2 linked regions of the Homo sapiens genome follow. The protein of the gene in region 2 purifies or fractionates together with the protein of the main gene of each other region. This does not show direct contact. Each region holds a gene or a part of one and is shown on either strand. Other genes may lie near its edges.

Region 1 (7,242 bases), on a different chromosome or scaffold from region 2:
CCTGATTTTATTTCCAGTTTTCATCCGAATCCACTGGGGAATGGGACGATTTTGCTTTTGTTTCTTGGGCAGGAATCACTTAATCCTGAAAGTCTTGTGAGAAGACATGGTGAGGGTGGAGTCAAGAACACACCACGATGGCAGAGAAAGGAAAAGAGGCATGAGATCATTTTATACCCATCATGCAACCACAAGCTTTTCTCAACTGATAATACTAGGACATTAGTTATAGACCCATTTTTTTTTTTTTTGAGACGGAGTCTCACTCTGTCGCCCAGGTTGGAGTGCAGTGGCGTAATCTTGGCTCACTGCAGCCTCTGCCTCCTGGGTTCAAGCAATTGTCCTGTCTCAGCGTTCCTGAGTAGCTGGGATTACAGGTGTGCGCTACCACGCCTGGCTGATTTTTATATTTTTAGTAGTAGAGACAGGGTTTCACCATGTTGACCAGCCTGGTCTCAAATTCCTGACCTCAGGTGATCTGCCTGCTTCAGCCTCCCAAAGTGCTGGGATTACAGGTGTGAGCCACTGCGCCAAGCTCCAACATTCTTTTTTTGTAATTTTTTTTTTTTTTGAGATCAGCCTGTCAGGTTGGAGTGCAGTGGTGCAATCTCAGCTCACTGCAACCTTGGCCTCCCAAGTTCAAGTGATTCTCCTGCCTCAACCTCCCAAGTAGGTGGGATTACAGGCATGCATCACCACGCCCAGCTAATTTTTGTATTCTTAGTAGAGGCAGAGTTTTGCCACGTTGGCCAGGCTGGTCTTGAACTCCTGACCTCAGATATTCTGCCTGCCTTGGTCTCCCAGAGTGCTGGGATTACAGGCGTGAGCCACCGTGCCTGGCTTCCTTTTAATGCATGCATAATGTTCTATTGTATGGTATGTTGGGGAGAAAAAAAGAGTTTTCCTCTACCCTTCCGAGGTTTTGGTTGTGATAGACCCCTGTAACAAAAGACAGATTAACAAGAAGAAAACAAACAGGACCAGGCATGGTGGCTCATGCCTGTAATCCCAACACTTTGGGAGCCCAGGAGTTCCAGACCAGCCTGGGCAATATGGCAAAAAACCATCTCTACAAAAAATGTAAAAATTAGCTGGGCATGGTAGTGGATGCCTGTGGTCCCAGGTACTCTACTCTGGTGGCTGAGGTGGGTGGATCGCTTGAGCCCAGGAGCGAGAGGTTGCAGTGAGCCGTGATAGTGCCATTGCACTTCAGCCTGGGTGACAGAGCGAAGCCATCTCAAAATAAATAAAAGAAAGAAAGAAAAAAAGAAAAACAGAAATTTAAAAACATGTACGTCACGTATTCAAAAGAGAGACCAGGGAAATGAGCAAATCTCCAAGAGGTAGCTTTGAATTCAGGATTATACAGCATCTTCAAAAAAGAACAGTATATGTTTAGAGAAGTGTTAAGAGAACCGGGCACAGTGACTCACGCCTGTAATTCCAGCACTTTGGGAGGCCGAGGTGGGCGGATCACCTGAGGTCGGGAGTTCGAGACCAGCCTAACCAACACGGAGAAACCCCATCTCTACTAAAAATACAAAATTAGCTGGGTGTGGTGGCGCTTCCCTATAATCCCAGCTACTCAGGAGGCTGAGGCAGGAGAATTGCTTGAACCCGAGAGGCGGACGTTGCCGTGAGACTGCGCCATTGCACTCCAGCCTGGGCAACAAGAGCGAAACTTCGTCTCAAAAAAAAAAAAAAAAAGAAAGAAAGAAAAAAAAAGAGAAGTGTTAAGAGAAGGAAAATGATTTTGAGTCTCTAGGGGTGGCAAATTATGGGAAGGCAAATACGCGATAGAAAAAGGCTCATTAATGAAGTTTGTCATGTAGATTCCTGGCTGATAAAGGTTTGTCAAAAGACAAAATTACAACTAATTTAGTTTAAAGAGCATAATTGGCTTTTAGTTGCGATTGTAGAATTGTGCAACACCTCATTTTATAAAATCGAATGAGTGTTCCTATGAGTTGAGTGGAGGAGGTTGGCTTTCAGAAAGGGCTGAAGAAAGCAGAAACAGAAAAGTGCATTGGTTGTTTCGAGGTTACTTTCCTTGAAAAGTTTAAAGCAGAGGGTATTTCCTTATCATGTCACTTCAAACTGGTCTGTCGGGAATTTGGCTATTATTTTTCTTTCTCCTGATTTCTTAGAAAGTCAGATCGACAACTTAGTTTTGACCTTGTGATGTGGAACATGAGTGACTTGAGTGACTCCATTTTGGTTTAGTCTGTTGGGCCTAGTCTAGTGCAGGAGCTCAGTCCAAACCAATGGCTTCCTATGAATTTTATTTAACAGGCGTAAAATTGTCTTTAGTGATTAACCTTTGTCCTTCCAGGCAGTGTGGGAAGAGGGATACCTTTGCCTTTTAAAATTTATGTCCTGCTTTACTTCAGACATTACACTAAATAGGAGTGTTGAGTATAAAAATGAATTCACAATTAAAGTTGTTAAATTATTTGTATATAACTTTAAAAGGAGTTTTTTTGAAGCTTTGTAATTACATTGAAAGTATATTTGTTTCCTTGAAAACAATTTTTTGAAAAGTGAATAATAATATAATACAGCTTTCAAATTACTTTATGCTGTTACTTTATTTCTATTGTATTCACATGTGAAAGTATGTGATCAGTTGTTGCTGTATCAGAGATATTAGAGATTCTTTATTAGTTGGGCATTCTTTATGACCTTTTCTATAAAAGAGTAAGGACATTAAAATGTAAGATGCATGATAAAAATATAAGTAGCGAGGCTCATTGTAGTTAGCCTAAATTAAGTAATGTTTAAGGTAGGTGTTCATGGCCAGGCGCGGTGGCTCACACCTGTAATCCCAGCACTTTGTGAGGCCGAGGCGGGTGGATCATGAGGTCAGGAGATCGAGACCATCCTGGCTGACACACTGAAACCTCGTCTCTACTAAAAATACACAAAATTAGCCAGGCACGGTGGCGGGTGCCTGTAGTCCCAGCTACAGGCTGAGGCAGAAGAATTGCTTGAACCCGGGACGTAGAGTTTGCAGTGAGCTGAGATCGCACCACTGCACTCCAGACTGGGCAACAGAGCGAGACTCCGTCTCAAAAAAAAAAAAAAAAAGTAAGTGTTCAGAGTAATACTTTTCTACATTATACTGAGAGAAATTATAAATTATAAAGTATATCAAATTATATTATTTTACTAATTTTACTTTTATGTAATAAAATGCAATATATTTAAAAATTGTTAAAAAAATAAAATTTATGTCCTGCTTTTAGGCAAATGGGGAAGGCGGAGAACTTTCCACCCACGTATCTACATCGTATCTACATCTTCTCAATTGTCTTCGGCTTGAAATAATCCTTAGGCTAAAGAGGCGTATTTTGGGGTGGCACATTCTGGTGTCCTTACAGGTACACTACTTTTATTCATGTCTGTTACTACTATTACACCCCCTTCACCTTGGGCCACCCCATCCTCAGTCTCCCTCATTTTTCTTTACAGTTAGCACCATTTACCCATTCACGGAGAACCTTACAGTTCTCGCAACAGGGTGATCACTCAGTAAGTACTGTTGTCCCTTTGGTCTGTTTCTGGCAGCGATTAGCTGTGCGCATTCTTTGAGAGGAGCGACGGAGGGAACAGAAGAGGGTACTAGTGAAGAACTAAGGTGCTTCACCCAAATAGATAGGGAAGGAGGAGGAGAGCTGAGGCGAGCCTCAGCTTCTGCCTTTTTTTTTTTTTTTTTTTTTTTGAGACGGAGTCTGGCTCTGTCTCCCAGGCTGGAGTGCAGTGGCGCAATCTCGGCTCACTGCAAGCTCCGCCTCCCGGGTTCACGCCATTCTCCTGCCTCAGCCTCCCGAGTAGCTGGGACTACAGGCGCCCGCCACTATGCCGAGCTAAATTTTTGTATTTTTAGTAGAGACGGGGTTTCACCGTGTTAGCCAGGATGGTCTCGATCTCCTGACCTCATGATCCACCCACCTCGGCCTCCCAAAGTGCTGGGATTACAGGCTTGAGCCACCGCGCCCGGCCAGCTTCTGCCTTCGATGTCTTCTGAAGGAGGGTGGGCTTCGAGGCGGCAGGATGTGCTTAGGGCACTGAGTGGCCCAGAGTGGGGAGCTCCTGCAGGGTTGAGAGGACCGGCGGGGCGAGGTCGGGGCGGGGCTCGCAGGACCTGGGCGGGGCTCGCAGGGGCTGGGCGGCCTGGGGGCGGGGCTGGGCGGAGCGCGCAGCCGCGCAGCGGTGGGAGGACTGCGGGGCTCTTGAGGCCAGCTGCAGAGCTTGTGGAGGCCATGGGGCGCGTCGTCGCGGAGCTCGTCTCCTCGCTGCTGGGGTTGTGGCTGTTGCTGTGCAGCTGCGGATGCCCCGAGGGCGCCGAGCTGCGTGCTCCGCCAGATAAAATCGGTAGGCGAGAAGGGGGCGGCGCGGGAAGGTGCTGGAGCGCGCCCCGCGCCGGGCGGCCGCTGCGCAGTGCGCCCAGATCCCACAGCCGCGACGCAGTCCAGCGGTGCAGGCCGAGCCAGCTGCGCAGGTCGCGCTTTCCCCCATTCACACTTCAGGGCGGCTTTCAGCTCTGGTCGGAATAGGACTGTGCATTCCCAGGCGTGGAGAGGTGCCCACTTGAGGAATGGGCGTGGACGGGGACAGGGGCGGGCGGGCAGGCAGGCGCCTAGCGTACCTGTAGCCCCTGTCTCTTAGGTGTGGGGCTCCGGGGAGGCCTAGGTTTCTCTATCTTCCCGTTGAACACTGACCGTGAAGACTCCAGTGTTCTGGCTTGACCTGGGGCGCCCGGCCAGATTAACAGGCTCACGCAGGCACAGCACAGGGAGGAGTGCAAACAAGTTGACCCTGCCTGCTTCCCTTGGGAGGCTGAACCGCCTTCCCCCAGCTCCGCTTTGCTGAGGTCGGCCTGCTCTCAGAGGCCCTTGGCTTGCACAGTTTCTCCGCCTAGGACTAACACAGCTGCAGAAAGAATCTGTTCTCTTTCCACTGTCAAGAGCTCCAGTGTCAGGAGCCTTGGCTCTTTGCTTCCTGTCTCCCTCCCGCCCCCCTTTAAAGTTGTGTTCTTCGGTATCATTAACCTATCTACATTGAATCTAGACACAACAAAGCTAGGCATAAATGGCCGTCACTTTATTAAAAATGCGTGCTGGAAAGGTCCACCTCTAATGTGCCCGTGAGTTGGGCATCTGGAAGGGTGTGCAGGCCCCTTGGTTCCTCCATAAAGACCTGTGAGAATCTTTGGGCATCTGGAAAAAAAATCGAGTTAATGTCAATATGTTAATTAATCTACTGCTTTTGTCTGGGAACAGTGTCTGTCCAGATTCAGGGAGTTAGACCTTCGCTGCAGGTGTCACTCTTCCCCCACCAAATTGTTGGTAATAGCTTTGAGTAACAACCTCTGCTATTGATGGTCTTTCAAAAACAAAACAACTCACAGAGCTGGTAAAAGGGGAAAATATAATCTTCTGTTTTTTTCCCTCATAGCGATTATTGGAGCCGGAATTGGTGGCACTTCAGCAGCCTATTACCTGCGGCAGAAATTTGGGAAAGATGTGAAGATAGACCTGTTTGAAAGAGAAGAGGTCGGGGGCCGCCTGGCTACCATGATGGTGCAGGGGCAAGAATACGAGGCAGGAGGTTCTGTCATCCATCCTTTAAATCTGCACATGAAACGTTTTGTCAAAGACCTGGGTATGTAATTTTGGTCTTGGAGCTCACCAGATTACTGTGTGACATCCCCGGATATTTTTATCAGATGGAGAACTGAAATTTCTGCCTTGTTAATTGCCTTACAGAGACGTTGGTAAAACTGTTTTCCTCACTTTCTTGTTAGTTGGTACTGCCTGAGTTAGGAGCAGTTCTGCTGTAATGGGACACTAGTTGTCTGTATCTTCAGTTATCTGGAATTACAGCCATGGGGTGGGGGTGGGAATGGCTGCCATTGTCTTTTTTTTTCTTTTGAGGAGTTTCGCTCTTGTCGCTCAGGCTGGAGTGCAATGGTGCGATCTTGGCTCACTGCAACCTCTGCCTCCCGGGTTCAAGCGATTCTCCTGCCTTAGCCTCCTGAGTAGCTGGGATTACAGGTGCCTGCCACCACGCCCAGCTAATTTTTGTATTTTCAGTAGTGACGGGGTTTCACCATGTTGGCCAGCTGGTCTTGAACTCCTGACCTCAGGTGATCCGCCTGCCTTGGCCTTCCAAAGTGCTGGGATTACAGGGGTGAGCCACCGTGCCCGGCCTCTGTTGTCTGTTCTTAAAATTCTGGGTTTGTGTTAAAGAATCAGAGAAGGTTTGGAGATAGTCATCTCATTGTGATCATTTTGCAGCTGAGTAAATGAGACCCAGAGACTTGAATTGTCTGGCTCAAAGTCACTCACATATGGCCATGGCCAGGGTCAGTGGCTCATGCCTGTAATCCCAGCACTTTGGGAGGCCGAGGCAGAGGATCACTTGAGCCCAGGAGTTAGAAACCAGTCTGGGCAACATAGTGAGATCCTGTCTTTACTAAAAATAAAAAAGTTAGCCTGGTGTGATGGCACAAACCTGTAGTCCCAGCTTCTTGGGAGGCAGAGGCAGGAGGATCCCTTGAGCCTGGGAGATAGAAGCTGCAGTGAGCCTTGCATGCCACTGCACTCCAGCCTGGGCAACAAAGTGAGACCCTATCAAAACAAACCACCACCAACAAAACAAACTCCGTCACACAGCTGTGGATGCAGACACGTGCCTAGAACTTGGGATGTGCAACTGCTGCCCTGACAGCAGAGGAGCTGGATAGGTCATGGGGAAAGTCTGACAGGCCTCTGGAGGCCCTTTCGGCAGGGAGTATTTTGTAACTTTGGCCTCCTTCCAGTTATCTGAAATATCCAGTTTTGCAAAATAGGATTCTCACAGGAATGGAAGTGCCTCAGCTGCCTTCCACATCCTCTGTAGATGCTGCCTCTGCTTCCGTTTCCTCCACGAGGGCGAAGGTATACCCAGAACAAATTATGCCACGAAGATGCATGTCTGACATCTTTGTTTTTAAATTGAATTCAGTTGGTACTCTGGCTTTTTTCCTTTGACTATCCAGTTTTTTTAGACTTTTAGTCTAAAAATAGCCAGGTAAAAATATATCTACTTTTGATATATTAATATTTACATGATCATCTGACCCATCGCCTAGCAAATCTGCTTTTGGACAGTGTAGTGAAAGTATAGTGTTTCACACTGTTCCAAAGATAGAGCTCCTTTATGTGTCTCCTGAGAACTGAGGGAAGCCCCAAATTCACT
Region 2 (7,633 bases):
GAACACACTTCGAAGAGGAAGGTGACCGAGAGAATGATCACAGCGCACTTAGGAAACTTTGTGTCATCTGAGGTTTGTCTCAGGAATTTTTTTTTTTTGAGATATGTGATGATTTTGATCAAAAGGACAAACAGATATTTTAAGTTACAAAGCTTGTGTTTAAAAGCAGAGAAAATAGGACAGCTTATAACTGCTGAAGCACTGTAATTTTAACTCAGGACAAAAGTACAATGGATTATTGCCTAAGAGTTAAATGGTAATTTGATCTTCAAATGTAAACTCCAATTGTCCTTCTAGCTAAGAATCTTCGCACCAGGGCACTGGGAGGCAAATTCAGTAATACCACATAAAACTGACATGTTTTAAAAAAGCCTAAATTGTGTTAGACCTATCACCAGAGAGATGCATTAATTCTCATGATTTCAGCTAGTGGGGCCCTACTTGGCTGAACATTATTGGAATAAAGCCTACAGTCAGGTGTCAATGTCTTTGTCAGTCTCTCACTGACAGTTCTACAGATAACGACGAAAACAATGCAAATCAACCACAAAGGGAAATGGTTCCTCTGGTGGAAAAACACAAGATGCAAGGAAACAGATGTTAGTGAACTCAAATCACAGGCAAACAAAATCACAGAGAAGTCAGCCTCTGGGAGAGCTCAGCTTCTGAATAAGCAAAGGTACCACAGGGAAGGGTACTTCAGAAAAGAATGATTTGAATATCAAAGGATTCAAGAGAACCTGGAAAAATTAAAGATGCTCTCAACCATTCCGGCAGCGTTTTGCAAGAAACAACTGTCTTTCTGAGAGTGAGAGGCTGATGTGGAGGCTGCCGGGTGGCACCGTTACTCAGTAGTGACAAAAGATACATGAAGACAACTTGATTCATTCTTTAAGAAGATATGTATGTAGTTGCATTTATGATCTGTATGTTCAATATTTATCTTACACATTTTAATTTTATTTTTCAATATAAAATCTTAACCTCTTCCTCCCTCTATTAATTTGCAAAATTCTGGTTCCCATTTTAAGTAGTCTTTTTCTGGTCACTTTTCCTGAATTAACTCTGACTTTCCTCAAGTTCCAGTTCCACGTTCCAAGCTCATTGAAGCCCTGTTACTGCAAGCTCAACTAGTCCAACTCTAGGGTTGAAATCTTCTAATGCAAACTCTAATACCACCCTCCAAATTCTCCAGGTCTAAGACGGGTACCACCAATCCCCATTGACCTGGATTACCTGGTTCTCAGCTTTGATTCCCACATCCGGTGTTGACAATCTTCTATCATTCTCCAAGCCAGTCGATTCTTCCTCAGATATCCCTCATATCTAAGATGACCACAGCAGGCACCACTACCTCAAGACAGATCTCTTGGCGACTCACCCACCTTCTGCCTTCACTGTGCACGCCACACTTTACAAGCAACTCTTTGTAAAACACGGCCTTCAAAATATGATCAGCTAAGAACCTTCTGGAAGGCCATGGATCAACACCAAGTTTCCTGTGTGGCACCTGAAACCTTTTATCCATCAACTGGTCCACCTTATCTCACCAACCTATCCTCTCATCAGTCCCAGATACCATCTCTCAGCTCCAGTGCAGCAGGTCTCTCTCTTCTCTCCCACACAAGCTGTCTCCATGCCTGCCTCAGGCATTTACTAACAGCACTTCCTCCGAGCCACCACCGTGTCCTCCTCTCAAGACTACACTTCTTTCAAGGCACAAGTCAACATGTTTCTTTGTCAAGATTTAACCTGTTACACATCCTGATGTTTTCTTACAATTGGAATCGTCTCTTTATTCATGAGTAGTCTATTTTAAATAAACATGCTGAGTAAATACGTAGAGAATATAAATCCTTAGATAAATGTTCATTTTTGTCTCCTTCCTAGACTATATCCTCAAGGGCCTCAGTCACACATTTCCTATTAGAGGTAGAAGAATATAAGCCATAGATTCAACATGCAACAACTACAAGACCTCTGTTAAGGTAAACAGAGAAATAAACGATTCAACTACACGAATTAGTGTTCCATTTTATAATTCTACTATGTCAAACAGAATTAACAAACCTGATACAAAAACATCAAATATATGGTAACACAAATAATATAACTCTTTTAGGCCTCTCTAAAGCTGGATAATTTGGTATTTTCATCACAAAAAGGAGACAACAAAGACTGCAATGCGAAATTAGCCTGGGCTTTGAGTGTCTAATTTAGAATTCTTCCATTACCTCTAGTTTACCTTCTAGCCTGAAAGTTCCTGAATCATAAAGGATCTCTTTAGTTTCCTTCGTGATAAGTGTTCTCTGAAAACGCTCTGCACTAGGGTTCATCTAACTGGGGTCTGAAGCACCCTAAGGGTTCTGGGACACATTCTAGACCATGAGAGAATTGTTCCTTTAAAAGGGGTCCGCGCATTACTCAAGTTCAGAAACAATGCTGTGCATCATCACTTTACTGCCCAATAAGCTCCATTTTTCCAAGAAGAAATCTAACATGAAATCTGGCAAAAGCAAAGCAAAGCGAAAACGACAAGACGAGCGAATGTCATCATTTAAAGCGGCAGGCAGGGCCGGCTGGGTCCCGGGTGCAGCATCCCTGCTGCCCGGTCAAGCTCCGCCCATTCGAGGGGGGGATCCCGAGCGGTCACCCGAGGCGCGCGACCGCCAGGTGTCCCCTGCCAGGGGCTGGGGGAGCGCGCCGGCCGCCAGGGCTCACAGGGGTTGGTCCCGGGGCGCTCGGATGTGGCCGCGCGGCAGGGGAGGCGGGAACCGGTCCGCGGGGCTAAGCAGGCGGCTGTGGGGGCCTGGGGCAGAGAGGCTCGTCCGCGGCCCGCTCGCCGCGCCGCCGGCCCCCGCACTCCAACCCACTCGCCGGCCCCTTCGGCCGCCCGCCCTCCCCTCACCCACGCTCGGAAGGCAACCTCACCTGCTTGGCCGGCCGGGGACCCCGGGAGCGGGGGACCACCAGTGGGCAGCATCACGGCCAGCCGGCTTCCTGGAGGCCGCGCTCCTTTCCTGGAGCCGCACCCCCGCCCGGCCCCCGCCGGCAACACGTCACCGCCTGCGCCCGGAGCGCGCCCGCTGGCGGCGGGAGCGCGCACGCCGAGGGGCGCGTTGAGCGCTGGGGGGCGGAGCCTGATGCGGGATGATTGGCGTCCGAGCGCTGGGCTGTTCCGTGGACCCGCGCGGCCACGCCAGTGTGCTGTGCACGGGAAATGTGGACGTGGGAGCACGGAGGCACCCAGTACTGTGGCGTGGTGCTCGTCTGGTCGTCAGCGAGCCTCAGCGTACTTAGGACACCGCAGTTTATCTTTCCTTAGCGCTCCTAACGGTTATGGAAAATAGCGCTTGAAAACCTGGTAAGGACTAGGCATTGTTGCTCAACTCTTGACATTTACACCTTTGCCGGTAACTCTCCCTGTTTCACAGATGGGGAAACGGAGGCTCACACTTATTCAGTCTCTCTTGAGATCCACCTGATTCGTGAGAGGTAGAGCCAGGATTTCATTCTTGCCCGTCGATGGCATATGTTAGTGCCTATGTTGGGGGAGGCAGACTGCCCCAGCCCTCCCCAACACACGCAATGGTTATGAGAAGAAATAAAGCGAAGGGTGTTCCTGAGATTGACCCCATGACCTACACTTAGTACAAGGCTAAGCTCTCTTAGCTCTCTGGCTTAGCAATAAACTGCTTTGAAGACACAGAACTTTGCACTTGAGAGCCGGAAGAGACCTTGGGAATCCCGGGTTCCATCCTTTCTTCCACCTTGTATACAGGTGAATGCACTGTGGCCCAGAGATAGGAAGTGACCAGCAATCCAGCCACTTTAAAAGATTTTTAAAAACAAGAGCCCTAGAAACGTCTACTCCATTCCATTTATCAAGTAAAACAAGCATAGACAGAACTGGCAGTTCTACATCTTAACACAGAATCCTTCTTGGTCCAGCACCCGCCTGGGTCACCTCCTCTTCCTGGATTCAGCTACTGTTAACGGAAGAAACCATGAAGCCTCAGAAGGTTAGAGCCAAAGGGACTCTACTGTGTAGCCCCAATCACCTTCTTTTACAGTTAAGAGCCTGGAACCCAGAGAGGTTGAGTGACTTGGCCAAGACCCCCTGGAGGCAGAGGAGAGCAGAACCAATGTTTCAGACTCCCACATGACTTGCGCATCAGTGTCTTTTTTTTGACAATCTGTTGCTATAAGAAATTACTCGTTTGGATAATTTTCACACTAGAAAACCCTGTGACCCAAGGCTAGCATTGAGAAGCTAAAGCTGGCCACTGACATACTGTGATTTTAAGGACAGTCTCCTTCGAAATTATCTGCCTTTCAAAATCTTTGCCATTGGAGACACTGGTTGGGGTTATGTTAGTCTTCCTTAAGGAGGGCTCTACTAAAATGCCAGACTAGGCCGGGCATGGTGGCTCATGCCTGTAATCCCAGCACTTTGGGAGTCCAAGGCAGGTGGATTGCCTGAAATTAGGAGTTCAAGACCAGCCTGACCAACATGGTGAAACCCCATCTCTATTAAAAATACAAACACTAGCTGGACATAGTGGCTTTTTTGTGCCTGTAATCCCAGCTACTCAGGAGGCTGAGACAGGAGAATTGCTTGAACCCGGGAGGTGGAGGTTGCAGTGAGCCGAGATCACGCCAATGGACTCCAGCCTGAGCAACAGAGTGAGACTCCATCTCAGAGAGAGAGAGAAGAAAAGCCAGACTAGTAAGTATTATCACACCATCCATATTTCCTGATAATTTATATGTAATAATTGTCTGATAAGAGCTAGGAAAGAAAAATATAGGAAAGTATGGAAACGTGTAACTTGGCATATTACATTCTAGAGCTGCAGTGACAAATTGCCCTAAACTGGGTGGCTTAAAGCAAGATAATTTATTGTCTTCCAGTTCTAGATGGTAGAAGCCTGAAATGAAGGTGTCAGCAGGGCTGTGCTCTCTCTAAAGATCTAGAGGAGGATCCTTCTTTGCCTCTTCCTAGCTTCTGGTGGCTACTGGCCATCCTTGGCCTTCCTCAGCTTGTAGATGCATCACTTTGGTCTCTGCCCCTGTTGTCACATGGTATTATCTCTGTGTGTCTGTGTCTCTGTCTCCAAGTTTCTTTCTTCTCATAAAGACACCAGCCATATTAGATTCAAGGCTCACCCTCATCCAGTGTGATCTTATGATCTCATATTAACTTGATTATATTTGCAAAGATCCTATTTCCAAATAAGGTCACATTCATGGGTTCTGGGTGGACATGAATTTTTTGGGGGTGGTCACTATTCAACTTAGTACATGAGAGGACCATCCTGGTCTGGTTCATCAGGGAGAGCTTCTTTGAGGTAACGCTGTCTGAGGTCACACCTGCACAATGAATGGGAATTTATTAGAATTCTGGGCCTATATGAAGGAATAGTATTTCAGTCAGTGGAAACAGCAAAGAGGCTCTGAAGGGGCCCATTCTCACTTGTTAACAAGAGAAACAAAAACTGGAGCTAGGCTGGGCGCGATGGCTCAAGCCTGTAATATCAGCACTTTGGGAGGCCGAGGCGGGTGGATCACGAGGTCAGGAGATCGAGACCATCCTGGCTAACACGGTGAAACCCTGTCTCTACTAAAAAAAAATACAAAAAATTAGCTGGGCGTGGTGGCAGGCGCCTGTAGTCCCAGCTACTCAGGAGGCTGAGGCAGGAGAATGGCGTGAACCCGGGAGGCGGAGCTTGCAGTGAGCTGTGATCGCACCACTGCACTCCAGCCTGGGCGACAGAGCAAGACTCCATCTCAAAAAAAAAAAAACAAAAACTGGAGCTAACAGGAGGGAACACTTACTAAGTACTTTATGCCAGGCATGGTTGTAAGAACGTTAGAAAACACGGCATACAGAATGATAATGAAACTGCATCAAAATATGTGGAATGCAGTCAGAACAGTCCTTCAAGAGAAATTTATAGCTTTAAAAGTTTATTTTAGTAAAGAAAAAAGGTTTGAAATCAATTATCTAAGTTTCCACCTTATGACATTAGAATAAGAAAGTGAATTAAACTCGAAGTGAATAGGAGGAAAAAAATAATAAAAAATAATATGAGACATTAACCAACTTACAAGTTGGTTCTTTGAAAATATTAACAAAATTGCTAAACTCCTAGTGAGATTGAGCAGGACAAAAAAACACGAATAACAAATATCAAGCATAAAAGAGGAAGATCCCTACAGATATACAGAAATTGAAAATATAATAAGAAAACATTATGAATAACTTTATGCTGATCATTTCGATAATTTACATTAAATGGAAAAAGTCTTTGAAAAATACAACTTCCCAAAACTGGCACAGGAAGAAATAGAACATTTGAATCACCCCATATCTTTAAGGTCCTAAAAAGAAAATTCCAGAGCAAGATGGCTTCACTAGTAAATGTTTATCAATCATTTAAGAAAGGTAATATTGATTTTATATAAACTCTTTTGAAAGAACAAAGGAAGAGAGAACACTTTTTAATTTATAATTCAGAATAATCCTGATACCAAGAAATAAAAAGGAAAGAAAATCACACACCTATATTTCTTACATAGGTGCAAAAATTTTAACAAAATATTGGCCAATCAAGGTCAGGTGTAATGACTCATGTCTGTAATCCCAGCACTTTGGGAGGCCGAGGCAGGTGGCTCACCTGAGGTCAGGAGTTTGAGACCAGCCTGGCCAACATGGTGAAACCCCATCTCTACTAAAAATACAAAAATTAGCCAGGCAAGGTGGTGGGCACCTTTAATCCCAGCTACTCAGGAGGGTAAGACAGGAGAATTGCTTGAACCTGGGAGGTGGAGGTTGCAGTGAGCTGAGATTGCGCCACTGCACCCAGCCTGGGTGACAGAGTGAGACTCCATCTCAAAAAAACAAAAACAAAAACAAAATTGGCAAATCAAATCCAGCGACATCTGAAAGAGCAAGATAGCATTACCAGGTGGGATTCTTTTTTGAGGAATGCAAAATTGGCTCAACATTTGAAAATCAATCAATGTCATTCACTACATAAACAGAATAAAGAAGAAAATTCATATGATTCGTATGATCTCAGTCAATGCAAAAAAAAATTTGGCAAAATTCAACACCCATTCATAATTTTGAAAAAAAGCCTTTATCAACTATAAAGGGTATGATTTTCCTCAGCTTGATGGAGCATCTACAAAGAATACAGCTATCATGGTTGTAAAATCAAAGTAACTCATTTTGTGCATGGGACTTTAAAAGTGTTAAATGAAATATTGAACAAATATGTGATACCTGGAGATACATGACCATTTTGCAACCATGGGACAACAGTCATCCTGATAAGAGCCAACAATAAATACGATGGAACTGAAAGATAGAACTGTTTGGGTCCATGATGGCATCATTAAACCGCTGAACTAGTACCAGTGACTGTGTCTACCCCCTGACTTCTTATTAGGAGAGAAAAATAAGCTCTTTATTTGTTTAAATTTCTTTTGGTTGGATATTCCATTACTTGTTGTTAGGTCTTTAAAAATATTTGTTGACTGGTTGGGTGACTTGCTCAAGGTTATAAAACTAAATGGGAGACAGGATGACTTAATGTAAAAAGTACCAAGCCGGGAGGCAGGAAAC

The links. The genes of interacting proteins can lie anywhere in the genome.
Region 1: the proteins of ENTPD4 (region 2) and PCYOX1 purify together in Homo sapiens (affinity purification with mass spectrometry; 2 studies listed by BioGRID and IntAct, with this or other methods). This does not show direct contact.

The regions. Positions count from the first base shown.
Region 1 is NC_000002.12:70,253,903-70,261,144, forward strand, and holds the start of PCYOX1 (prenylcysteine oxidase 1 precursor), read left to right. Parts: upstream 1-4,234; 5' UTR 4,235-4,262; coding exon 4,263-4,374; intron 4,375-5,457; coding exon 5,458-5,664; intron 5,665-7,242. UniProt on the Homo sapiens protein: Prenylcysteine oxidase that cleaves the thioether bond of prenyl-L-cysteines, such as farnesylcysteine and geranylgeranylcysteine. Only active against free prenylcysteines and not prenylcysteine residues within prenylated proteins or peptides.
Region 2 is NC_000008.11:23,454,626-23,462,258, forward strand, and holds the start of ENTPD4 (ectonucleoside triphosphate diphosphohydrolase 4), read right to left. Parts: upstream 3,023-7,633; 5' UTR 2,932-3,022; intron 1-2,931.